Linked DNA regions of Homo sapiens. The protein of the gene in region 6 purifies or fractionates together with the protein of the main gene of each other region. This does not show direct contact. Each region holds a gene or a part of one and is shown on either strand. Other genes may lie near its edges.

The links.
Region 1: the proteins of TNPO1 (region 6) and KPNB1 purify together in Homo sapiens (affinity purification with mass spectrometry; 2 studies listed by BioGRID and IntAct, with this or other methods). This does not show direct contact.
Region 2: the proteins of TNPO1 (region 6) and TNPO3 fractionate together in Homo sapiens (co-fractionation; 2 studies listed by BioGRID). This does not show direct contact.
Region 3: the proteins of TNPO1 (region 6) and STOM purify together in Homo sapiens (affinity purification with mass spectrometry; one large-scale study listed by BioGRID and IntAct). This does not show direct contact.
Region 4: the proteins of TNPO1 (region 6) and NUP153 purify together in Homo sapiens (co-immunoprecipitation; 3 studies listed by BioGRID and IntAct, with this or other methods). This does not show direct contact.
Region 5: the proteins of TNPO1 (region 6) and PRR14L purify together in Homo sapiens (affinity purification with mass spectrometry; one large-scale study listed by BioGRID and IntAct). This does not show direct contact.
Region 7: the proteins of TNPO1 (region 6) and IREB2 fractionate together in Homo sapiens (co-fractionation; one large-scale study listed by BioGRID). This does not show direct contact.

The regions. Positions count from the first base shown.
Region 1 is NC_000017.11:47,666,919-47,670,418, reverse strand, and holds part of KPNB1 (importin subunit beta-1), read right to left. Parts: intron 2,234-3,500; coding exon 2,009-2,233; intron 742-2,008; coding exon 550-741; intron 1-549.
Region 2 is NC_000007.14:129,045,112-129,048,611, forward strand, and holds part of TNPO3 (transportin-3), read right to left. Parts: intron 1-3,500. UniProt on the Homo sapiens protein: Importin, which transports target proteins into the nucleus. Specifically mediates the nuclear import of splicing factor serine/arginine (SR) proteins, such as RBM4, SFRS1 and SFRS2, by recognizing phosphorylated SR domains.
Region 3 is NC_000009.12:121,363,751-121,367,250, forward strand, and holds part of STOM (stomatin), read right to left. Parts: intron 2,496-3,500; exon of another isoform or gene 2,366-2,495; intron 1-2,365. UniProt on the Homo sapiens protein: Regulates ion channel activity and transmembrane ion transport. Regulates ASIC2 and ASIC3 channel activity.
Region 4 is NC_000006.12:17,637,426-17,640,925, forward strand, and holds part of NUP153 (nuclear pore complex protein Nup153), read right to left. Parts: intron 2,640-3,500; coding exon 2,514-2,639; intron 346-2,513; coding exon 1-345. UniProt on the Homo sapiens protein: Component of the nuclear pore complex (NPC), a complex required for the trafficking across the nuclear envelope. Functions as a scaffolding element in the nuclear phase of the NPC essential for normal nucleocytoplasmic transport of proteins and mRNAs.
Region 5 is NC_000022.11:31,715,633-31,719,132, forward strand, and holds part of PRR14L (protein PRR14L), read right to left. Parts: intron 1,660-3,500; coding exon 1-1,659.
Region 6 is NC_000005.10:72,893,161-72,896,660, forward strand, and holds part of TNPO1 (transportin-1), read left to right. Parts: coding exon 1-86; intron 87-216; coding exon 217-375; intron 376-455; coding exon 456-543; intron 544-3,297; coding exon 3,298-3,396; intron 3,397-3,500. UniProt on the Homo sapiens protein: Functions in nuclear protein import as nuclear transport receptor. Serves as receptor for nuclear localization signals (NLS) in cargo substrates.
Region 7 is NC_000015.10:78,490,216-78,493,715, reverse strand, and holds part of IREB2 (iron-responsive element-binding protein 2), read right to left. Parts: intron 3,295-3,500; coding exon 3,190-3,294; intron 3,098-3,189; coding exon 2,955-3,097; intron 1-2,954. UniProt on the Homo sapiens protein: RNA-binding protein that binds to iron-responsive elements (IRES), which are stem-loop structures found in the 5'-UTR of ferritin, and delta aminolevulinic acid synthase mRNAs, and in the 3'-UTR of transferrin receptor mRNA.

The DNA.
Region 1 (3,500 bases), on a different chromosome or scaffold from region 6:
GATAATCTGACATCTCTCATCATCCTGTTTGATAATCTGACAACTCTCTAAGCAGCAGAGTACTTTCAACCATACCTGCCATTTCATTTCTGTTTCCTTTCACAGAAAGACGTTTAGCCCCATTCCTTCCTTATTTGAACTTCCTCCCCTTAACCAATTACATTAGCCTATACTGACTCAGCATTTAGGCTGCCTACCTTCCTTCCCTCTTGCCCTCTACTCAGCAATGATACTTCTTACAGCCAAAAACTCTCTACCTTAATCAAAACTTCTTGTCCCCAAGCAATTCAAGAAAGCAACCCAAGTCCAGATAGTTTCCCCACTGGGTTACCATGACTGTTCTAAGTGGTTCAGGAACCAGTAACCATAAGTCAAGTGTTCCCACTGGCTCTTGCAGTTGGAATCTCCCCCACATTTTAATTGAATAAATTAGAAAGAAAATCAGAAAAAGCATTCCAGTGAGGCAGATTGATTTCTCTCCCACACCTTCTACTTTCTTGCCAGTGGCGCAGGCAAGCTCCTTTTCTCACCAGCAAGAAAATCCCTTACCCAGCACACATTTGAAGCCACTCTGGGTTCAGCACTGAGACCCTCAATCAGACACTGTAGCAGGGGAGCCAAGTAGACATCATTGATGGCAGCTTCAGGAAGCAGCTCACAAATTCTGCCTACAGTCCATGCAGCTGTATCTCGAACAACTACACTGGGGTCTTTCATTAATTCTATTAGGGTGGGCATAGCCTGAAAATATAACAGTTATTAGCAAAGCAAAACAAAGATTAAAATTCATGTTAACTACTACCCCAGAGAAAGAAATACTGATGGATGGCTTAACTCAAAAAAGTCACCAAGATACTTCTGTAATTTTACAGGACATGGTGTGAAACATCTTTCAAAATATTTGAAAATATCTTTCAAAACTCCAGTTTAGAGTTTTATATTAAGAATTTGGTGTAAATGCTTTTAGTAGTCTGCAATAAATTACTCAGATAGAGGCCGGGCATGATGATGGCTCATGCCTGTAATCCCAGCACTCTGGGAGGCTGAGGCAGGCAGATCACTTGAGGTCAGGAGTTGCTTGAGGTCAGGAGTTCAAGACCAGCCTGACCAACATGATGAAACCCGGTCTCTCTACTAAGAATACAAAAATTAGCTGGGCATGGTGGCACATAGTCCCACCTACTCAGGGGGCTGAGGCACGAGAATTGCTTAAGCTGGGGAGCTGGAGGTTGCAGTGAGCCTAGATTGCACCACTGCACTTCAGCACTCCAGCATGGGTGACAGAGTAAGACTCCATCCCCCCGCCTCCCTACCTCAAAAAAAAAAAGAATTACTCAGATACTCAGAATTCTCAGGATGCAGCTATGATGGCATCTGGCTATATCCAGAAAGACTGAAGACTGAATTCTTTAAGCACTAAACTCAACTATAACAAACTCTTTTTTTTTTTTTTGAGATAGAGTTTCGCTCGTTGCCCAGGCTGGAGTGCAATGGCACGACTTGTAATAGCAAAACAAGCACAACATTTCCATAAGAACATTTTCATTACATAAAGGACATTTTGTCCAAAGAATAGAATAATAATGCCATTATTAAAAATTATGGGGAATCAGTGCTAGGTGCAAAAAAAAATTATTGGGAAATGTTTACAACATAGTATTAAATGAAGAAACAAGTTATAAAACAATCTGCACAGGAAGAGCCTGTTGCACACACATGCACATAGGAAAAAGCTTCAAGGATAAATACAGAGTTAAGAGTGGTATTTCTGGGCAATGAAATTAAAGATGACTTTTCTCTTTTGGCTTCTTTCACATGTCTCTGGATCATGCTGACTTATGTAATTAAAAACCTAAGAAATATATTTTACCCTCATTAAAAGTAAACAAGTATCTAGAGATAATCTTTGTAGATGACAATTTACAGTTTTGTTTTGAAAAATAAAGATATGCTTTAAGTTTAAACAATAAATATCCTACTTTCTACTCCAAAAATCCCTCAGTTTCACCTGTATAACTAGTGGTTTGAGCTGACTGGGCTCTGGTCCTTCCAAGATACAACCAAAAGCCATCACTGCTGCATCCCGGTACCGCCAATCTGGGTTCTTGATGTGTTCTTTAATGAAGGGGAGGACATGTGGGACAATGTCATCTTCACAGCAGGTGGCCAGAAGCATGAGGCACACCCCTGCTGCTTTGCAGGGGTTCCAGTCATCGTCATCATCATTTTCGTCCTGGTGAAAGAATATGGCACTAGTTAAGATTTTGTCCAAAGAATCATTTTAACTCTAAAGGTCCTCTGACTACTCTTGAATGTCTTTAGAACTTAAACTCCAGGGAAATAAAATATAAGACCTTTATATTTTGTCTCTTCCACAAACATTCATCACAGCATAGCCTTTGTTAAACAAGATTCAGATGGAAGAAGATTCCATTTAGTACTACACAACAAGAATGAAAAAATTTCAACTACATCCAAAAAGAATGAATTCCAAACATTTAGAACAAAATACAGAACTAGAATGTATGCTGTATGATTCCAGTTATGTAAAGTCCAAAATCGGCCAGGCGCGGTGGCTCATGCCTGTAATCCCAGCACTTTGGGAGGCTAAGGTGGGTGGATCACCTGAGGTCAGGAGTTTGAGACCAGCCTGGTCAACATGGTGAAACCCCATCTCTACTAAAAATACAAAAATTAGCTGGGTGTGGTGGCACGTGCCTGTAGTCCCAGCTACTCAGGAGGCCAAGGCAGGAGAATTGCTTGAACCTGGAAGGCGGAGGTTGCAGTGAGCCGAGATTGTGCCACTGTGCTCCAGCCTGTGTAACAGAGTGAGACTCTGTCAGAAAAAAAAAAAAACATAGTATTAAAAATAATAATAAATAAAGTCCAAAATCAACAAAAATTAACCTATGGAATAAAAGACCAGGAAAGTAAGGGAGTTTCATGACTGGGAAGAAGACATGATTCAATCAAAAGTTCAAAAAAGAGGCAAGGTGCAGTGCAGTGGCTCATGCCTGTAATCCCAGCACTTTAGGAGGCCAAGGCAGGCAGATCACTTGAGGTCAGGACTTCGAGACCAGCCTGGTAAACATGGTGAAACCTCGTTTCTACTAAAAATACAAAGACTAGCTGGGTATAGTGGCACACACCTGTTAATCCCAGCTACTCGGGAGGCTGAGGCAAGAGAATCACATGAACCAGGGAGATGAAGGTTGTAGTGAGCCAAGACCGCCCCACTGCACTCCAGCCTGGGTGATAGAGCAAGACTCTGTACCCCCCAACGCCACCCCAAAAAACCAAAAACCAAAACCACAAAAGTTCAAAAAAGAAAAGATTCCACTAATATCTCCTCTTAAGTTAGAATCCAAGGTATAGCTTCCTAATTGTGGCCATTCACACCACATAGTAAACTTAAGGCAGGTTGCCTATGCAGTTTCAGAAAATCACACAAAGAATAATTTGTTCTCAAATAGGAAAAGCACAATAAAAATATAAGAAAG
Region 2 (3,500 bases), on a different chromosome or scaffold from region 6:
TACTGTATGATTCCACTTACATGAGGTACCAAGAATAGTCACATTCATAGAGACAGAAAGTAGAATGGTGGTTGCCAGGGATTGGGGCGGGGAGCAAATGGGCACCTATTTTGTTTAGTGGGCATAGATTTAGTTTTACAAGATGAAAAAGTTTTGAAGATGGATGATGGTGATGGTTGCACAACAATGTCAATGTATGTAATACCACTGAACTGCACACTTAAAAATGGTTAAAATGACTGGGCACGGTAGCTCATGCCTGTAATCCCAGCTACTTGGGAGGCTGAGGAGGCAAGATAGCTTGAGCCTGGGAGTTTAAGGCTGCAGTGAGCTATGATCGCACCACTGCACTCCAACCTGGGCAACAGAACAAGACCCTGTCTCAGAAAAAAAAAAAACGTTAAAATGCTAAATTTATGTTTTGAATGTTTTGCCACAAAAAAAAAAAAATCTATAAAACCTACTTTCCATTTCCTCCATAAACATCAGTGCAATCAATCACTGTAAAAGAATGCTGAAGAAATATCTGAAAAACTTTGGAAAAACTATTGTAATTAGAAAATATAGTAGTACCCTGATAATTTTACATCCTAAATCAAACTATCAACTTTGGCCCAAGGCCTGGCAAGACAAGAAACTAATCAAAATATGGAGAAATGCCACCACATAACAGACTACCATGGCAACAGAAATACTGTCACAAAATCACAAACATAGACTCCAATACTTCAAAGACATGAAATGTTCTATATTTGTACCGTACAGTACTTGGAATGTGGGTAAGTGCAAATAAGAAACTGATTTTAGGCCGGGCGCAGTGGCTCATGCCTGTAATCCCAGCACTCTGGGAGGCTGAGGTGGGTGGATCACGAGATCAGGAGATTGAGACCATTCTGGCTAACACAGTGAAACCCCATCTCCACTAACAATACAAAAAATTAGCCAGGCATGGTGGCATGCACCTGTAATCCCAGTTACTCGGGAGCCTGAGGCAGAATTGCTTGAACCCGGGAGGTGGAGGTTGCAGTGAGCCAAGATTGCACCACTGCACTCCAGCCTGAGTGACAGAGTGAGACTCCGTCTCAAAAAAAAAAAAAAAAAAAAAAGAAACTGATTTTAACTTTTACTTAATTTTAAGTTTAAATAGTCACACTAGACTGGTGGCTACTACACTGGATGACACAGCTACATTGGTACACTCTCTGGGAGAAAGATCTTTGGTTTTCATTATTTACATACTCCCAGTTTCTATCAGTGCAAGGCACAGAGTATTCCTAGACTGAACTCATCTACTGAAGTTGTATAGGAATATTTTCTATTTTCTAGAAGGCTTTCCTTTCAAAAGCATGTTTTGACTGGAAGGTGCAAGCATAAGCACACACAAAAAATGCCTAAACTTTCAAGATAAATCAGTAATGACCAGAGAAAAGCCAAAAACCCTAGGTTTTATAACCAGGCTAAAGAATCAATAAATTCCAAAAAGGAAAAGTACTAGCAAAGAAGTTTGAAGCTGATATTCCATGACCCATGTATTAATGTGTTCTCACACTGCTAATAAAGACATACCCAAGCCTGGGTAATTTATAAAGGAAAGGGGTTTAACTGACTCAGTTTCACATAGCTGGGGAGGCTTCACAATTATGGCGGAAGACGAAGGAAGAGCAAAGCGACGTCTTACATGGCGGCAGGCAAGAGAGAGCTTGTGGAGGGGAACTCACATTTATAAAACCATCAGAACTTGTGAGACTTATTCACTACCACAAGAACAGTATGAGGGAACCCCCCATCATGATTCAATTACCTCTACCTGGCCCCACCTTGCCACAAATCGGGGGGTATTATTACAAGGTGAGATGTGGGTGGGGACATAGCCAAACCATATCAACCCAAGACCTTTCTGATATGATATCTAAGAAGAAAATTCCTATGGACATGTGATAAACCAAACATGACAATGCCAACTTAGTCTATCAAAGCATGACTTTACTTCATCTGCTTTGTGCTTTTGATGCTTTCCATCAAAAAGCTGCATACACCCATGCTGAAGCATGCCTATTCAGTTTCCATACTGAACTATAAAACTTTTGAGGTAATATCTAACCCAAAGATTGTCTCTGTAAAAGTTATCTCCTACTTACAACTTAAATTAAAAACTTATAACTGAGTCGCTTAAGTAATTGGCCCTATGAAGAGATGGTCTTTCCTTCAATAGCTCTCTACAACTTCTACTAATTTTGGTTAGTAGGGGTGGACAAATGAAACTACTAAATATACAGGACAGGCTACTAAGATTCCTTTAAGATCTGCCTCAAAATACTCTCTTTCAGAACACTTTGAAGTTATCAGTGATATCTATCTATCACATAAAACAACCATGGCTGTACATCTCCAAAAATTTTGGTGGAAGTTTAGAGCAATGAATACAGATTCTTCAGAAAATGGCTGTTTTATACAAATATTAGAGAAAGAGAAAAGATGCTAACTCACAGTACAGGCTAAAGCATATTCAAATTATACCTCTATACCACGTCTACTGTCACCAGGTCATTCGAACTATACTCAATTACTCTCGGATTAGTTAGGTGGGGTGGTAGAGAAGAATAAGGATAATAGTTTCACAAATACATATTCTTGAAAGTAGTTTTTTAGCAAACCACACAAATTCTATGCCTTACCAATTTCAAATGGATGTTAAAACACTATAGTTATTACTACAGTTAAAACACGCTTTTGTTCCAGTAGACAAAATCTTCCGGAAAGAAAAAAACCACCACACACATTACTTTTGGTTACAAATGCCATTTAGTGACCACTTAAAGAGAGCCTTGGCCAGGCACAGTGACTCATGTCTGTAATCCTAGCACTTTGGGAGTCTGAGGTGAGAGAAGTGCTTGAGCCCAGGGGCTTGAGACCAGCCTGGGCAACATGGCAAGACCCTGACTCTACAAAAAATACAAAACATTAGCCAGGTATGGTGGTGCATGCCTGTAGTCCCAGCTGTCCAAGAGGCTGAGGTGGGAAGATCACCTGAACCCAGGCTCAGGTGAGCAAGGCTGCAGTGAGCAGTAATCACACCTCTGCGCTCCACAGCCTGGGTAACAGAGTGAGACCCTGTCTCAAAAAACTAAATAAATAGACCAGGTGCAGTGGCTCACACCTCTAATCCCAGCACTTTGGGAGGCCAAGGCGGCCAGATCACTTAAGGCCAGGAGTTTGAGACAAACCTGGCCAACATGGCAAAACCCCAATCTCTACTAAAAATACAAAAATTAGCCGGGCATGGTGGCATGTGCCTGTAGTCCCAGCTACTTGGGAGGCTGAGGCAAGAGAATTGCTTGAACCCAGGAGGCGGAGGTTGCAGTGAGCCAAGATGGTGCCACTGCACTCCGGCCTGGGCAACAGAGTGAGACTCTGTCTCAAAAAATAAATAAACAAAGAGAGCCTTATTGAGTCAAAAAGTTCCTCTCCCTTTCTGTACCTGAATATTTGCAAGTATGAAA
Region 3 (3,500 bases), on a different chromosome or scaffold from region 6:
TATGTCAGCCAACTATTTATTTGAGGAGGAAGACTTGCATAAATTAAATAATGCATTTGATCTTTCTTCCAGCTATTCAAATAAGGGTACATTTCCCAGCTTCTCAGTTTCTCCCTTTTGCTTATTTTGAAGCAAGGCCTTTATAAGGCCTGATAAACAAAAACTCCTGGTGAAAATAAGCAAAAGGGCAGGTAGAGTAAGTGAATATAAATTCCTCTTCAATTAATCAAATTTTTACTATAACTAAGTTTTTCAAATGACTGGAATTTTAGGAGAAAAAGACAAAGAAGGGAAGGACATAGCAGAAGCGAAGGAAAATAAGAGAAATAGAAGGAGTAAAAATGGGAGAAACAAAAATGAAGACAGAATCCTACAAAGAGAGATAGATTAAAAAAGCTAGAAGTGAGAAAGAGGCAGAGTTTACCACATGGTAGCGTCTCGATAAACGTATGTTAAAAAATGATAGTGTTTCATTAGAGATCAAAACTTGCAATTCATTTAAGGCAGAAGATTTCAAAGCAAACAAGCACACACACATTATAGCCTGCCTTTCAAATTAGTATTTTAATTAGGCACGGCTTAGTTGTTCGAATGCCCTTATCCTTAAATCTCTAGAGAAGAAATTATTCTTGGGGCTAGAGTAGCTACAGGCCAGATGGTATCAAGTTAAAAACCATGAGTGAAGACTGTAACTTTTCCTCCCTATTAAAATCCATCTATAGTTATAAATGCTAGACCAAAAGAACTGATACTGATGAAGCACTATGTGGTTTGAATTACAAAGCTTAAAATGTGTTTACTGTGAAATACTAAGGAAAACAAATGGACTAATACTTCTAAGAAAGATTTGCAATAACAGTTATTCTTTGCTTAGCTCAAAAAGAATAAGGAAAGTAAATAAGCATAAATGTCTTATTTCCTAAATATTTTAAGGATTTTCTGTAGTTTTCCTGCATTCAAATGTTTCAGGCCATACAAGAGGAAAAAAATAGGTGAGAGCAACAGCAATAATTTTAAATTTGGACCTCTCAGTCTAAAATAATGCTGCAATAGCCCTTTACCCTTTTAAAACAACATTTATCACACTTGTAATTATTCTATTCAGTTGTGTGTCTTCATGAGATTTTGGTTTTATGAAAACAGTATAGCATAATAGGTTCACAGATGGCTCTGCCACTTACTAGCTGTGTGATCTTGAGAAAGTACCTTATTATTCAACTGTGCCTCAGTCTACCCATTGAAACATAGGGCTAATAAGAGTACCTCCTCAGGTTAGTGTGATGAGTAAATAAGCTAATATGGAAGACACTTAGTGTATATAACAGGTACTCAAAAAACATTTGTTAAATAGTTGCTGGATGAGTTGAGTGTGTTGTTTTTTTGGGGAAAAGAAAAAAAAAAGACTGCCTCTCACATAAGACAAACTGAAACAGCAGACAGGATCCTGGGATACAGTACAGAACCATCTCCTGCCCAAGCAGTTGTCAACTGCTTTCCTCAAGTATTTTCTTTTTAAAAAAAAAATCAGACCTTTTCCAACCATGACGTTAGAGAATTCAGGAAAGCAGAAGAATGGGCTGAACATGGCCCATGTCTGGAAGCACCAAAACATTTATGTTCAGGAAAATTGGAGAGAAAAACAATTTCATAATGGGTATTAAGTTAATTAAATTTCATCTAGGCCTGAAATACATGAAAACAGAACAAAAACCCTCCCACTTTTTAGGTTTTTTTTTTTTTTCCCAGCTCTTTTACTTGGACATCTTAAAATTATTCACAATTAAGTTTTTCTCATATAAGTCTTTGGAGGGTAACATCGTTTTCATTTAAAAATGGGAAATGGAAGCAGAAGAAAACTAGATGATAAAGTTCTCAGTTCTTCACTGTGATTAACAGCTAAGCAGTGGCTAAAAGCTTGCATTTTTGGTGTTAGATTCCAAATCTACCACTAAATTTTCTTATCAGTAAAATGGGGAAAAGAACAGTATTTATTTCACTCAGTTGTTGTGGAGATAAAACGAGAAAATATGTAAAGGGCTTGACACTTAGGAAGTATTCAACAAGCAGTAGCCATTATTATTACCACAACTTTAAGATCACTATTGATAAGTTTAGAGGAAGAAACTTTTTATGAAGTGAATTACCTTTTGGGATCTGGGCACTATGGAGAAAATATCAACTAACAATCTGCTTGGGGACTCTATCTCTGGAGGAGAAACAGACTACACTTGGGGCAGTAAGTCAGAGTTCTAAATGTTCTTGGACCATCCTTCATACAAATCTCTTAAGTGATGGTAGGGTGATCTCAACCTAAATCTTTTAATTATAAATTCCACTCTCATTTCACTATATTCTACTACCTTACCATAGTGCTCACTTTAACTGGACCACAAGTTCAGTATAGTTTTCATTGTCTGAGACTTTAGGACTTTATTGGTTGTATCTTCAAGGATAATCTTCTGAAATGTGAGGCCAAATGCTTGGAGTTCAAGTTTCTTTAGTAGTCCCAGCAGACAGAGAAAGATTAAAAAAGAATGTAGCAACAAGTGTGTGTCAATAGAAAATTATTTTAATTGAAATGATCTATTTTAATTATCAACAAGTGTGTGTCAATAGAAAATTATCTATTGACACACACTTCCTTCTTTCTACTAACCATGACCTCTAAACTTCTCTTTCCATGCTTTAATAAATAAAAGGAGATTTCTTATTAAGGACAATATATTATCTTGGCAATTATAATCCTTTTATTGATAATATAAACCCAGACAAATAGTCTATCTGTAATAATATATAATAAACATAATGGCCATGCCCTAAAATCAACAGCTTAAGTTATAACAAACTTAATAAAATAAATGGTAAACAGAAAAACTGCTCCACCAACATAAGGCTAAGGCAAACACTTAACAATGTTATTTACTCCAGGGGGATTTTTATCTCCCTGCCTGCTTCCTTTTTCTTTGAACAAATGTTTTTGTATACCTACTATGTACTTGATACTGGGCTACTACAGTGAAGAAGGACACAATCTCTATTTTCAAAAGTGTGGTCTAAAGGCCAGGCTTGGTAGCTCATGCCTGTTGTCCCAGCACTCTGGGAGGGTAAAGTGGGATCGCTTGAGTCCAGGAGTTCGAGACCAGCCTGGGCAACATAGTGAGACCCTGAGTTAAAAAAAAAAAAAAAATTAGCTGGGTGTGGTGGTGCATACCTGTAGTCCCAGCTACTCGAGGGGCTGAGGTGGGAGGATCACTTGAGGCTACAGTGAGCTATGACTGCACCATTGCACTCCAGCCTGGGCAACAGAGCAAGACCCGGTCTCAAAAAGAAAAAGTGTAGTTTAATTATGGGAGGGGAGGGGACAGATGAGTCAAACTGATAAATATGTTATGTAATAAACATTATGATAGAGATATGCACAGGATACCAGGCAGACGCAGGGAAAGGGTATTCACTTTTTTTGTAGTTACAATAGTTTTCAGGAAATTGCTTTTCCATGC
Region 4 (3,500 bases), on a different chromosome or scaffold from region 6:
AGGTATCACAATCCCAAGTGCCTATCACTGGTTTAAATTTGTCTCCAAAGCCTGTCCCTGATGCAGAAAGAGTTGTTTTGCCACTTTTATTTGGTGTTTCAATTCCAGTCTGTTTAGCAGTATCTCTGGGTGACAATTTTGCTGCTTGACAGGCTATGCATTTGTTGTCTGTAACTTTGTTCTGGAGTAGACATGTATCACACTGCCATGATGACCCAGCTTTTAAACTCTCCCCAAACCCAATTCCACTAGAAGAAAAGCTACTTATTGCTGGTCTTGTATAAACTACTGGGCTTGTTGCGGTGGGCTGAGCAGCAACAGAATCTATCTTCGGCGATGCGAAACCTACAATGAACGAAGGAGAGAGTGCAACGTTAGAGAAGCTTTATAAATCAAAGCATTAATTTGATTATTATTACTGAGAAGACGTTTACCTCACTGCACACTTACTACAATCCAAGATGAACTACTTAAGAATTGTTTTTCACTTAAGTAATCATATTTATCAATTACCTAATAAGTTACACTTAAACCATTTAAAATTCTACAAAAGATGTTTTGTTTACAGGATATCACCTTCTCCTTCAAGGAATTTCTAGTTTGATGCTTTCAATGGTACTAATTTACTGATATGTATTATTGCCATCCACATTTTGCTATATTCTGTCTCTCTACAAACACACAATACTCGCAGTCCTCTTTCTCCTTCATCCATTTCTTCTTTTAAGTGTTCCATTGGCTACACCAAATGGCTTCAATGTCATCTTTGAATTTTGTCCAGTCATAACCTACTGCTGTGGTATTCTCTACCTTCAGTAAAATCAGCTGAGCAAGTCCTTCTGTTACCAAAACTGCTGTCATTGAGTTCATTCACTCAAGCTGTATTTTACTCATGAGAATGACTTTTGTAATTGTTTACTTAGGACCAGTTAACTTTTGTCTTACACACAACACCACCATCTGTGATCTGTTTCTCCAGCCTTACCCGCCAAAGAAAAAGAAATTAAAAGGAGAGAAGATGTAGAAGGTTATTAGAGGTTTTCTAGTTCCACAAAATAATCCAGCCTAGAGCTATTTTTAGCTTAAGGACAAAATACCACATGCTTGAGTTATTCCCAGTGGGCAACGTGTTATTTTGCTTATGATTAATTTAAATCACTAAGATTGGCAAGATATTAACAGTAACCATCTCAAGGCATTACAGATTTCTTTTTCTTCTACTTTTTCAGATTTTCCTAATTTCAGTCAAATGAAGATTCTCCCCAAACATTTCCTATTTAAGAAGTAAAAAGGGAGCAGGGGGAGGTTGGCATCATGAATGCAAAGTGTAACCCCAGATACACAAGACAGACTATACACATTTGAGGCTTGCCTACTACTTGGTTAATTCCAGCACAAGCACTCTGGAGTTCTACCATAACTGCATGGAACTGTCCAAGCTACTGGACTCCTGTAGGCAGTATACTTATCTATAAAATGAGAGAGCTGGACCAGAAAAATTGAATCCTCCTAAATCCTGTTGTAAAAGCCAACCTTATTTTTTAAGAAAACCTATCTTATTACACATGGACACATCTGGTGGGTACGTTTAAATTCTTTCTGAGCTATTAGATTATCTCACAGTTTTACATTCTTTTATTCTTTTTTTCTTTTCCTTTCTTTTTTTTTTAAAGACAGAGTCTTGCTCTGTCGCCCAGGCTGGAGTGCAGTGGTTCGATCTCGGTTCACTGCAACCTCCACCTCCCAGGTTCAAGCAATTCTCCTGCCTCAGCCTCCCGAGTAGCTGGAACTACAGGTGCATGCCAGGACGCCCAGCTAATTTTTTCTCTTTTTAATAGAGATGGGGTTTCGCCATGTTGGCCAGGCTGGTCTTCAACTCCTGGCCTCAAGTGATCTGCCCGTCTTGGCCTCCCAAAGTGCTGGGATTACAAGGGTGAGCCACCGCGCCTGGCAAGTTTTACATTCTTATACTATGTATCATAAATGGAATTATGAACATCCTGTTTTCAAACAAAAAATTATTCTTATCTGAGAACTATTTATCCCCTTTCTAATTATTACCTACTAGCTTTCAAATCTTGCTTCAATTCAAGTGAGTACTGCTCCCTATGTATATGTTACAATTCAGCAGATGCTTTCCACTTGGCCTTGTTCCATATTTACCAAACTGGGGAATAATTCAAGAAGGCAGTTCAGTGCTCTCATAAGAGAAAGACATGTCTATGTGTATCATCAGGTTTACTTACTCTTATTCCTCACTGACCTACCTCTATTAATGGAGAATCCATTTCCTCCTCCTACACTTGCCTATTAGAAATTTCATTTTAGTATAGAGTCCTTTGGCTTGTAAGATATTTCCAGCAAAAGAATTACACCTAACTACATCTCTATTCAAAAGTAAATCTCCTACCAAACTAGTCAGAAATTTTTAAAAGCCTAAAGTATAATACAAAATGACATTAAATTGAGATCATGAGTTTGTAATCAAAAGGCTTATCTTTTAATTATCTTACCAGGGCTTTTCAGAATATCTAGAACACTTCCTTCTTTCAGGATTTCTGCAGGTCTAAAAGGACCCTCACAATCTTCAGGTGGTGTCTTCTTACAATTTGTACTGTTCACTGTAGTGACATGATGAGCTGTAATTTTTTTAAATTTAATAACATTATGCCAAATAAAACACTGGACTCTCAAATGCATTTTTAAAAATCTTTCAAAACCATCTTTTGGATTAATTTCTAAAAGTTCATGAAAAAAGTCACTTTAATTCAATAAACAAATGACTTTACAGGGATAATTTGCCATTACAAGGAGATAAAAACACTATTCCCATACTATATAACTTCCCCCACCAATAAAAAGGCAAAAAAATATAAACTATAATTATCGTCCAATTAACTGACTGATAATCAAAACAATCAAACTAAAAAACTGGAGAGGATATGGCAACTAGGGCAAGCCCATCCACTGCATGAAATATCTGATTACACAACAATTTACAAAACTAATCAAAAAAAGTAATTTTCAACTGAGCAATTATTTCATTTTTAGAAATTCACACTATTAATATAATTGAAAATATCCTTCAGTTATAATATTGAAAACCTATATGGTAAAATATTAAATAAGGGTATATGGTTACATAAATTACATAACAGTGACATGATGAAATACTTATGCAGCCACAGAAATCATTCTTTTTCAAAACAGAGAGTGAGTGTCTTGTTGTCAGCAAGGCCGGAGTACAGTGGTGCAATCATAGCTTAATGCATCCTCAAACTCCTGGGCTTAAGCAATCCTCCCACCTTAGCCTCTCAAGTAGCCAGGAACACAGGCGCATGCCACCACATCTAGCTCATTTTTTTTTTTACTTTTTTGTAGACATGGGGTCTCACTATGGCTGGCCAGACTGGTCTTAAACTCCTGGCCTCAGGTGATCCTCCCACATCGGCCTCCCAAAGCACTGGCATTACTGGCATGAGTCATCATGCCTGGCCCAC
Region 5 (3,500 bases), on a different chromosome or scaffold from region 6:
TGATGTTTAAGGTGGGACAGTTTGAAGAGGCACCACAGGTTTGGTTACCTGGTGGAGAGATGTCTTTTATTTTTGTCTGAATGGGAATGGTTTGTATATCAGCAATGACATCTGCTCTACCCTCTAATGGAGGGTGATGGCTCTGATGGGCATCTCTGCCTGTTGCTAAAGGCATCTCTTTGTTTAAATGCAGTAGAGAGTCAGTTGGCAAATTTGCATGTTCTTGAGAATTAAGGGACACTTGTTGATTTAAAACACATTCACTTTCTACTTTGTTTACAACCAGTTCATTGGTACAAGAAAGTTCATTCATCTCACAGGCTATGCTCTGTTCATCTAAAAGTGGAATATCATCATGTGAGGTCTGTATAACTTTTTCTGACTCAGGTCTGTAATCAAATTCTGGGGATGGTAGCAACAGAGCAGTACCTTGCTTGGGTTTTAATACCTCACTTACAGGACTTATTTGATCCTCTGGCATTAAACTCACAATGGATTTTCTTTCAAACAGAAAATCATTACATGATGCTTCATTTAACTGGGTGTTGCCTTCCAGATTTCTCTGGATGCTGACTAAGGAGTTACAGTCTTTAGTGTAAAAAGATTTACTTAATATATTGGGCTCTACAGGGGTTGTCTGTCCTGCCTCTTCAATCTGCATCAAGGAGGAAAAACTGCTTTCTTCAGAGTGTCCACCAGGATGGCTCATATTAGTAAAAGTTTCTTTATGGTCCTCAGGGTTTGTCAAGTTACCTTGAACGTGTACAGTAATTTTCAAATCATTTTTATTTAACATTACTTCTGTGGCTTCAGTAAAAGAATTGGGCATTAAAGAACTAGAGTTCCCTGTATGGAGACTGTCTTGAATGCAGTTATTGTGGATATTTTCCTTTGGAGAAACAACAGGCTCTTTTTCACCAGAACAACGACCACTAATCTCCTTTTCTGGTTCCCTGGCATTAAAAAGAAAAGGTCCACCTCTTTCACTCCTAGGAATCAAAAGCCGTTCCTCATTTTCTTCTCTAGAAGCCAAGTTCTTCCCTTGATCATCCCCCCTATAAAAATAAGAACTGTCTGTCTTTTCAGCAGATCTCTTTAGCAAACCACCACCTTCAAAACCACAGTTTTCTAAGGATATTGTTCTGGATTCTGGACCAGACAAGTCTGATGTGAAACATGAAACTTCAGAATTTTCTTTCAAAGGGCTTGTGGCTGTGGGACTATCATGTGTAGAACTGGGTTGTTCATTATGGTGGCCATGAAGCTGTTGGTGATTGTCATCTGCTTCACAGACCAGGTTTGGTTTACACAACTCTTCCTTCCCATTGTCCACATTAGAAATGGCACTGTTTCCTGGTAATGACAACCAAGGACAACTTTTTAATTCTTCACATTCTTTTTCTTTAGGAGTTGCTTCTGTTAATACAGGGTCCACAAAGGTTAAAGGTTCTGGGGTAACTAATGTGCTGGTTTCTGAAACCTCATCACTGGTCATGATTTTGTCTACTTCTTGGAATTCACCGCATCCAGCTGAGAGATCTTTACTCACATTGCCATTTTTGTGTCCTTCATTATTATCCGTCTTAGTCCCATTGACCTTCATACCTTGTACTTCGGCGGATTTTAGCAGAGTTTCAGCTGTAATCTGTACATTTCCTTCTGAATAAGAGAAATAAATCCAAATTAATATGCAGTAATAAAAAATCACTTGGTCTACCTTCATGCATTTTATTATGCTATGCTACCAAGGGCAACAGAAGACCCAACTCAAAAAGAAAACTGGAAAGTTAGCATGCTATACCATTGATTTTGTTCTTCTCTGAAAATATAACAGAGGGCCAAAACTATATCTGGCAGAAACGTAATTTTCAACAAATGCCTCTTGCTGAAAGTTTAATACAGAGTTCACAGATCAATGCTGGACAACTGAATACAACATAGAAATATGTTCCTATGTTGTATTCTCATTCAGTCTTAAGAGGCTTTCATTTTAAAACATTAATAAAGCAGACTCACAATAACAGCTTATTTTACTAGATGACCATGTTCTCAGTACTTGAAATTAGATGTCATCGATAAAATTAGTCCTTGGAAAAAAACAACTATACCTAAAACTTTATTTATTTATTTACCTATTTATTTTTTTCAGACAGAGTCTTGCTCTGTTGCCCATGCTGGAGTACAGTAGTGCGATCTCAGTTCACTGCAACCTCCACCTCTCAGCTCAAGCAATTTTCCCGCCTCAGCCTCCTGAGTAGCTGGGATTCTAGGTGCCTGCAACCACCCCCAGCTAATTTTTTTTTTTTTTTTTTGAGATGGAGTCTTGCTCTTGTCGCCCAGGCTGGAGTGCAGTGGCACGATATTGGCTCACTGCAACCTCCACTTCCTGGGTTCAAGCAATTCTCCTGCTTCAGCCTCCTGAGTAGCTGGGATTACAGGCACCCGCCACCATGCCCGCCTAATTTTTGTAGTTTTAGTAGAGACGGAGTTTCACCATGTTGGCCAGGCTGGTCTCGAACTCCTGACCTCAGGTGACCCGCCTGCCTCGGCCTCCCAAAGTGCTGAGACTACAGGCATAAGCCACCACGCCCGGCCCGCCCAGCTAATTTTTTGGGGGGGTTTTTGTTTTTGTTTTTGTTTTGAGACAGAGTCTTGCTTTGTCGCCCAGGCTGGAGTGCAGTGGCGCAATCTCGGCTCACTGCAACCTCCGCCTCCCGGGTTCATGCCATTCTCCTGCCTCAGCCTCCCGAGTAGCTGGGACTACAGACGCCCACCACCACACCTGGCTAATTTCTTTTTGTATTTTTAGTACAGACAGGGTTTCACCATGTTAGGATGGTCTTGATCTCCTGACCTCATGATCCGCCCACCTTGGCCTTCCAAAGTGCTGGGATTACAGGCGTGAGCCACCACGCCCGGCCTGCCCAGCTAATTTTTTTGTATTTTTACTAGAGACGGGGTTTCACCATGTTGGCCAGGCTGGTCTCAAACTCTCGACCTCAGGTGATCTCCTATTAGTTCTGTTCCCCTAAGAGAACCCTGACTAGCACACTATACACATGAACATGGGTATATGTACACATGATTTTATATATATATATAAAAAACAGGACAACTGTATTAAACAGAAAAAGCAAAATGCAAATCTATTTAAAGATCGGCCAGGCATGGTGGCTCATGCCTGTAATCCCAGCATTTTGGGAGGCCGAGGTGGATGGATCACACGAGGTCAGGAGTTCAAGACTAGCCTGGCCAACATGACAAAAACCCATCTCTACCGAAAATACAAAAATTAGCTGGGCATGGTGGCACATGCCTGTAATCCCAGCTACTGGGGAGGCTGAAGCAGGGGAATCGCTTGAATCCAGGAGGCGGAGGTTGCAGTGAGCCAAGATCATGCCACTACACTCTAGCCTGGGTGACAGAGCAAGACTCTGTCTCAAAAAACAAAGAACAAAACAAAACAAAACAAAACAATCTAATTCCTGAGTTTGATGCAG
Region 6 (3,500 bases):
CACTGCAGTCTGGATTCCTTCCGTACTGTGAACCTGTGTATCAGCGTTGTGTAAACCTAGTACAGAAGACTCTTGCACAAGCCATGGTAATTTTTTTAAAATGTCTTCCTCTTCTTGACATGGTGGACATTTTTCTAAAGATAGGTATAATGTATACAGACTTTTTAAGTAGTTAATTAAAACCAAACTTACAAAAAACATTGTGTCTAATTTCAGCTAAACAATGCTCAACCAGATCAATATGAAGCTCCAGATAAAGATTTTATGATAGTGGCTCTTGATTTACTGAGTGGCCTGGCTGAAGGACTTGGAGGCAACATTGAACAGCTGGTAGCCCGAAGTAACATCCTGACACTAATGTATCAGTGCATGCAGGTGAGACTTGAAAGGTGAAAATGAATTGAAGCCTGTTTCTCTGTGTCACATTGGGGTTAATTTCTTCTTATTTCTTGTAGGATAAAATGCCAGAAGTTCGACAGAGTTCTTTTGCCCTGTTAGGTGACCTCACAAAAGCTTGCTTTCAGCATGTTAAGCCTTGTATAGGTATGAATATTTTCTACTGCTATGAATATGGTTTTTTAAAGTTAACATTTACATCAGCTTTGTTTTTTTATTATTAAACTGAAATTGCATGGAATCCCAACATTTATAAATGTACACTTTATTGGTTAAAGTAAACTTGCTGTGATTGAAACAGGCAAGATGGCAGGAACCCCTAATATTTCCTTGAGCTTGCCATCATCTCAGCTTTTTAGGTACTCCTGTGACTGGAGGAAAGCTTAGTAATATACTTTAGAGTAAAGGACATGCCCACCAGGGAAGCCTTGGTACCATGGACTAGTTAATAGATTCTTTTTTGAGTAGCCACCTTTTTGGTAGAGGTACACAGAAATAGTAATAATCAGGTTTTCTTCTCTAGCAAACCAGCATACTTTTTCAGATATTGCAGAAAACTTCCAACAAATGTCACTTTAACTGAGACTGGGCCTGGGGGCTCACACCTGTAATGCCAGCACTTTGGGAAGCCAAGGCAGGCAGATCACTTGAGGTCAGGAGTGCGAGATTCGAGACTAGCATAGCATTTGTCTTGGCCTTCTGTGACAATGATAAGAAATTCCTTGAATGTTGTACCCGGAATTGTTCTTAAACCTATGGGTTATAAATGAGTTATGGGATTTTTTTCCCCCTTTTCTGCATCTCAGCATGTTGGGTAACAATTATTTTAATACAGCCGGGCACGGCGGCTCAGACCTGTAATGCCAGCACTTTGGAAGGCCAAGGCGGGCAGGTCACGAAGTCAGGAGATCAAGACCATCCTGGCTAACACGGTGAAACCCCGCTTCTACTAAAAATACAAAAACTTAGCCAGGCGTGGTGGCTTGTGCCTGTAGTTCTAGCTACTTGGGAAACTGAGGCAGGAAAATCGCTTGAACCCGGGAGGCAGAGTCTGCAGTGAGCTGATACTGTACCACTACACTCCAGCCTGGGCAACAGAGCAAGACTCCGTCTCAAAAAAAATTATTTTAATACTTCATTTAAACCTTAATTTAAAATATTAATTGAATGTTTTGTCATCTGATATAATTGTGCTTTTGGATAACCATTTCTCAAAAAACTAACATAATTAACATTAATTATGATATATTAAGAACCATCAAGTTTAAACCTAACAGTGTAATGAATTCTTATGGGAAGCTTATCATTCTCATATTTACCACCTAATTTAGTTTTTTAGTTGAAACTTATATGAAAGGATTTAATTTTTTTATTATAAAGTGTTTAAGACGTACAAAAGTAGAAAAAATGTAACAAACCTCCTATCACCCAGCTTCAACTGTCCAGTCCTGTTTCCTATATACTGTTGTCAGTGGTGAGACACATAGATCTCAGATATTTTGGAGCAAATCTCAAACACAGCATTTGAAGTCTTAATATTTTAGTACATACTATACTATCTCTTCTTACAATTGTTTTTTGTTAAAGAAACCATGTTTTTTATTCTAAAGAGTTTCCTTTACTGTGGATTTTACTGATTGCATCTTTGTTGTCTTTAACATGTTCCTCTGTCCGTTGTATTTACTGTAAATTGTTTGGATACAGAGACTGAGGTTTAATGAGATTTACGTTGTTTTGTTTTTAAGACTTTATAGATGGTATTGTGTACTTAGTGTACATAGTGTCTAGTTGTCCCTCCTTTTTTTTTTTTTAATGTTACCAATCTTGATGATTGTCTCAATTAGTGGTTCTCAACTAGGGGCAATTTTGCCATTCGGGGAACATTTGCCAGTGTCTGGAGACATTTTGTTTGATGCTGGAGAGGTGCCATTGATGTCTAGTGGGTAGAAGCAAAGGATGTTGCTAAACATCTTATAATACAGGAGACAGCTCCCCTTCCCCCCAACAAAAAAATGATCTGGCCCAAACTGTCAATATTGCTGAGATCAAGAAACCCTGGCTTACATCTCCTGATTTATTAGGAGTTTAAAAAATTATGATATTCTAATTCTTCATTTAATAATGAAGATACTTATATAGGGAGACATTTCCCATATCAATAAATTACTATCCTGAGGTAAAATCATATAGCAGAGGCAAGATAAATACTTGATTCTTTTTTTTATTTACCAATTTTCAAAATAATGAATTGATTCCTATCATCCTCCAAAGGTATCTTTGATGTTTCAGAGTTTTGTTTTTGTTTGATTGTTTTTAGTGCTAGTGTGACTTCATGATGTTCAAGCTGTTGTACTGCTTGCAGTGAGAACTTAAGTTGGCTCCCGAGTCCTTTCATTATGACAAGATAGTCCACTTATTTTGCACATTTCCTGCCTTTGCCTGTAATGTGACGTTTTCTGAGAGTCCATTTTTTTTTAGTGGAAAATGTTATTCAGAGACCACAATCAGAGCACAAGAGTGAAAATTGCTTTAAAAGCCAAAATCATTGATTTTTTTTTTTTAGTCTAATTACAAGAGATTACTCTGACCAACTCTTTTTAGTGGTATGTAAAATATACCCAAACTTGTATTTCCTGTTCCACATTATTTGAAAGTTCATTGGCCAGATACTGTTTTCTTCAGTTTCTTAAGATAAACATTACCAACTCCTTTAAAAAATATTTTTAAATACAGTTGCCTAGTTTATTTCCACCAATTTTAAAATTGATGTTGCAGTAATTTTTTTAATGGTGAAACTTGTTATTTCTTGCTTAGATTTCTGTTTCCACCTAGTAGATTTCCTTTAAAGTACAATATACTGCTATTGAAAAGTTTACTACATAGTTTAAATTTTTTTTCTAGCTGATTTCATGCCAATATTGGGAACCAACCTAAATCCAGAATTCATTTCAGTCTGCAACAATGCCACATGGGCAATTGGAGAAATCTCCATTCAAATGGGTAAGATGTTTTTCCCTATTTAAAAGCATAAGGCCTGGCGCGGTGGCTCACGCCTGTAATCCCAGCACTTCGGGAGGCTGAGGCGGGCAGATCACCTGAGGTCA
Region 7 (3,500 bases), on a different chromosome or scaffold from region 6:
CCATTAGATTATTTTGAAGCAAAACTGAGATAATTTTAACAGCATACTTTTCAGTACATTTCACTAAAAGATGTAGACTCTTAAAAAAAAATCTTTACACCAAAAAAAAAAAATCACAATAATTTCTTAACATCAGATAGTCAATATTGTCACTGATTATTTCCAAACTAAGTTGGTTTGTTCAAATCAGGATCCAAATGCAGTTCATAAATGTGTTCAGTTGATCTCAAGTGTTTTAATCTACAGTTGACCTTTAAACATGAATTTGAGTTGTGTGGGTCCACTTATACATCGATTTTTTTTCAACCAAACACTGACAGAAAATATATTATTCACAGGATGCAGAAAACTGCAAATACGACTTTTCATATATGTGGCTTCTGCAAGGCTGACTGTAGGAATTCAGTATGTGTGGATTTGGGTATACATGGGTGGTCCTGGAACCAGTCCCACATCTATACTGAAGAATGACAGTATATGTTCCCTCTCCTTCCTCCTGCTTGTGCTCTATCTGATGCAATAAAGTTACTTGTATAGTTTTCTGTACCCACATTGTGTTGACTGCATCTCCATGAATCATTTAACATGTTCTTCTGCCTTCTGTTCTTGTAAATCACATGTCAGATCCAGTGGTTTGATAAGATTTGGGTTTTTAATTTTTGGCAACAATGCTTCATAGGTCATATGTACTTCTATTAGGAGGCACAAGATAGCCAACTGTCTTTTCCTGGAATGTTACCAGTGATTGCTCATTGTGGTCTAGATTGCTTATTAGAGACCGTAAAATAGTGATACTATAATTCACCCATTCCTTCTTCATTTTTTAGGTACAAAAGTTCTATAAAGAAAAACTTTCCAGCAGGTATGTTGGCTCTTGCCTGCAATACCAGCACTCTGGGAGGCCAAAGTGGGAGGAATGCTCGAGCCCATGTGTTGGAGACCAGCCTGTGCAACAAAGGGAGATCTCATCTCTACAAAAAATTAAAAATTATCCAGGCATGACGGTGCGAGCCTGTAGTCCCAAGCTACTCAGGAGGGTGAGACAGGAGGAGTGCTTGAGCCCACGAGTTCCAAGCAGCAGAGGGCCAAGTGCCACTGCCTTTCAGCCCAGGCAAGAGTGAGACCCTGTCTCTAAAAACAAACAAACAAACAAATGACAAACTTTCCTTCATCAATGATTTGGTTATGCTGAAATACATTCCATACATGAAAGGCTGGTTAAAGAATTGATTATTTACCAGTTTTCAAGCTAATGAGCTGGTCCTGACCCTGAGACCTTTAGACAGAAGCCTGATGGTCTGTGACCATCAGGTAATCTTTGTAATTTTATTTTTGGTAATCTTGGTAATTTTTGGTAAAATTGTGTACATTTTCCAGTCCCAGATCTGGAATCAATAATTTCTCCATGAAGCACTGGTTCACTATAGTGGGAAACAGTATTTAGAAATCATAATCTGGGTGCGGGGGGTATTGCTACTGGATTAGTGACCATATATAACTTTTTAGGGAAAAATAACTGAACATAAGTATCTCAACAATCAACAACTGACTTTTATCAGCCTCTGATTTGGTCTTTTATGCAGAGGCAACAATATTCTAAATTTGTGCATTTAAATTTTTACTTCAGGATGGGAGTGGTAGGAGGTTTGAGTGTCTTTATTTTTAGAAAATTCTAATTGATGAGCACTACTGGATTAAATGTGCTAAGAAATACATATCAGGAGGCATAATAATTACAAAAATTGTACATTTGAGAGAAGTGTTGACTGTTTTTCTTTTTTGGAGGTATGTCACAATTATGATGAAGATGGAAATCACAACCAAAAAAATATTTACAGGAAAGGAAACTTATTTCTCACCACTTTATAATAAAAGCTGTGCAATATTATCACATGTCAACACAAGCTACATTGACATTTTGGCTGGGCACGGTTGCTCATGCCTGTAATCCCAGCAATTTGGGGGGCCGAGGTGGGCGGATCACTTGGTCAGGAGTTTGATACCAGCCTGACCAACATGGTGAAACCCTGTCTCTACTAAAAATATAAAAACTTGCTGGGCATGGTGGCGCGTGCCTGTAATCCCAGCTAGTTGGGAGGCTGAGGTAGGAGAATTGCTTGAACCCGGGATGCAGAGGTGGCAGTGAGCTGAGATCACACCACTGCACTCCAGCCTGGGTGACAGAGTGAGTCTGTCTCAAAAATAAATACATAAATAAATACATACATAAATAAATAAATTTCAATGAAAAAGCTTGTCATTTTAATTACTCAAGCATCAAACAAGCATCCAATAAGCTAATCAGGTAGCAGTACTACAAATCCTGCTTTTAACAAAACTTTGTCTCTATTGTCAAAACAGTCCTTTGATAACAGGGCAACTCTACATGATTAATCATGTAGAAATGAAATCTTACCAGTTTTAAATTTATATCTCCAATATAAATGGCCTTTACGTTTATTGTTCCTATAAAATTTTAGGCTCATGAAGCAGAAATTCATTGTCTTTTGATTTGTACATATCATTCCCAGCCTCACACACGTACATGTTATAGCCCATAAAATACACATTTAAATTCCTTACTCCAATAATGGGAAGCTGGTTTTAACCAAATGAGCAGGCTTCATTTGGTAGGTAAAACCAAGCTGACTTTTCAATAAAGTAGCACTGAAAAAGAAAAATCTTATTTCCAATCAGCTGTTTATTTAGACTATAAGGGCTCAATTTAAAATTGCAATTTCATTTTCTAAAGTCACAAGCAAAGACAAGTACAGAAGGTACCCCCCGCCTCCCCACCCCGCCACTCTCCATTCTTGCTTAAGACAAACACATTGGCAGTCAGATTACCTACGATAGCATGTATTTACTGGAAAAAAGGAACAAGACCAATAGAAGCCTCTTAATCAGTAAGAAACAAGAAAAAACAAAAACACTCTAAAGCCATGTACACATACCCTCTGTTTGTCAAATACTTAGCGGCAGCACTATTCCTAGCGATACTTCCTGCAGGTGATATATGATCTGTTGTGACAGAGTCTCCCAAATATAATAAGACATGGGCATTTTCAATAGCCTGGAGTGCAATTGGCTCTTTGGTCTAGAAGGTAAAAGTTCAAGGCATTTAACTCTTTACAAGACTTCTTAGTTTATAACAATCTTTAAAAGATCAAATAGTAAAACAGTACTTACAAGTTTATCAAAAAATGAAGGGCATCTGATATAAGTAGACTTTAAGTCCCATGGAAACAAAACTGAATCCGGTGCTTCTAAGGAATTCCACCGTTTATTCCCCATCTGTGAATACAGTTTTCGTTGATGAACCAAAGCAAAGATAAAAGGACTCAGAAAAAGAGGCGCATGAAAATGATCAAGGGAATAAAATAGTACTTAGGTCACAACAACAACAACAAAAATAGGCCTTATCCATTTGGAAAGAAAATTAAGAGTGTATTCTTTTCTTTTTTTTAAAAAATTTTAAATTTTTATTTTTGCCCAGGCTG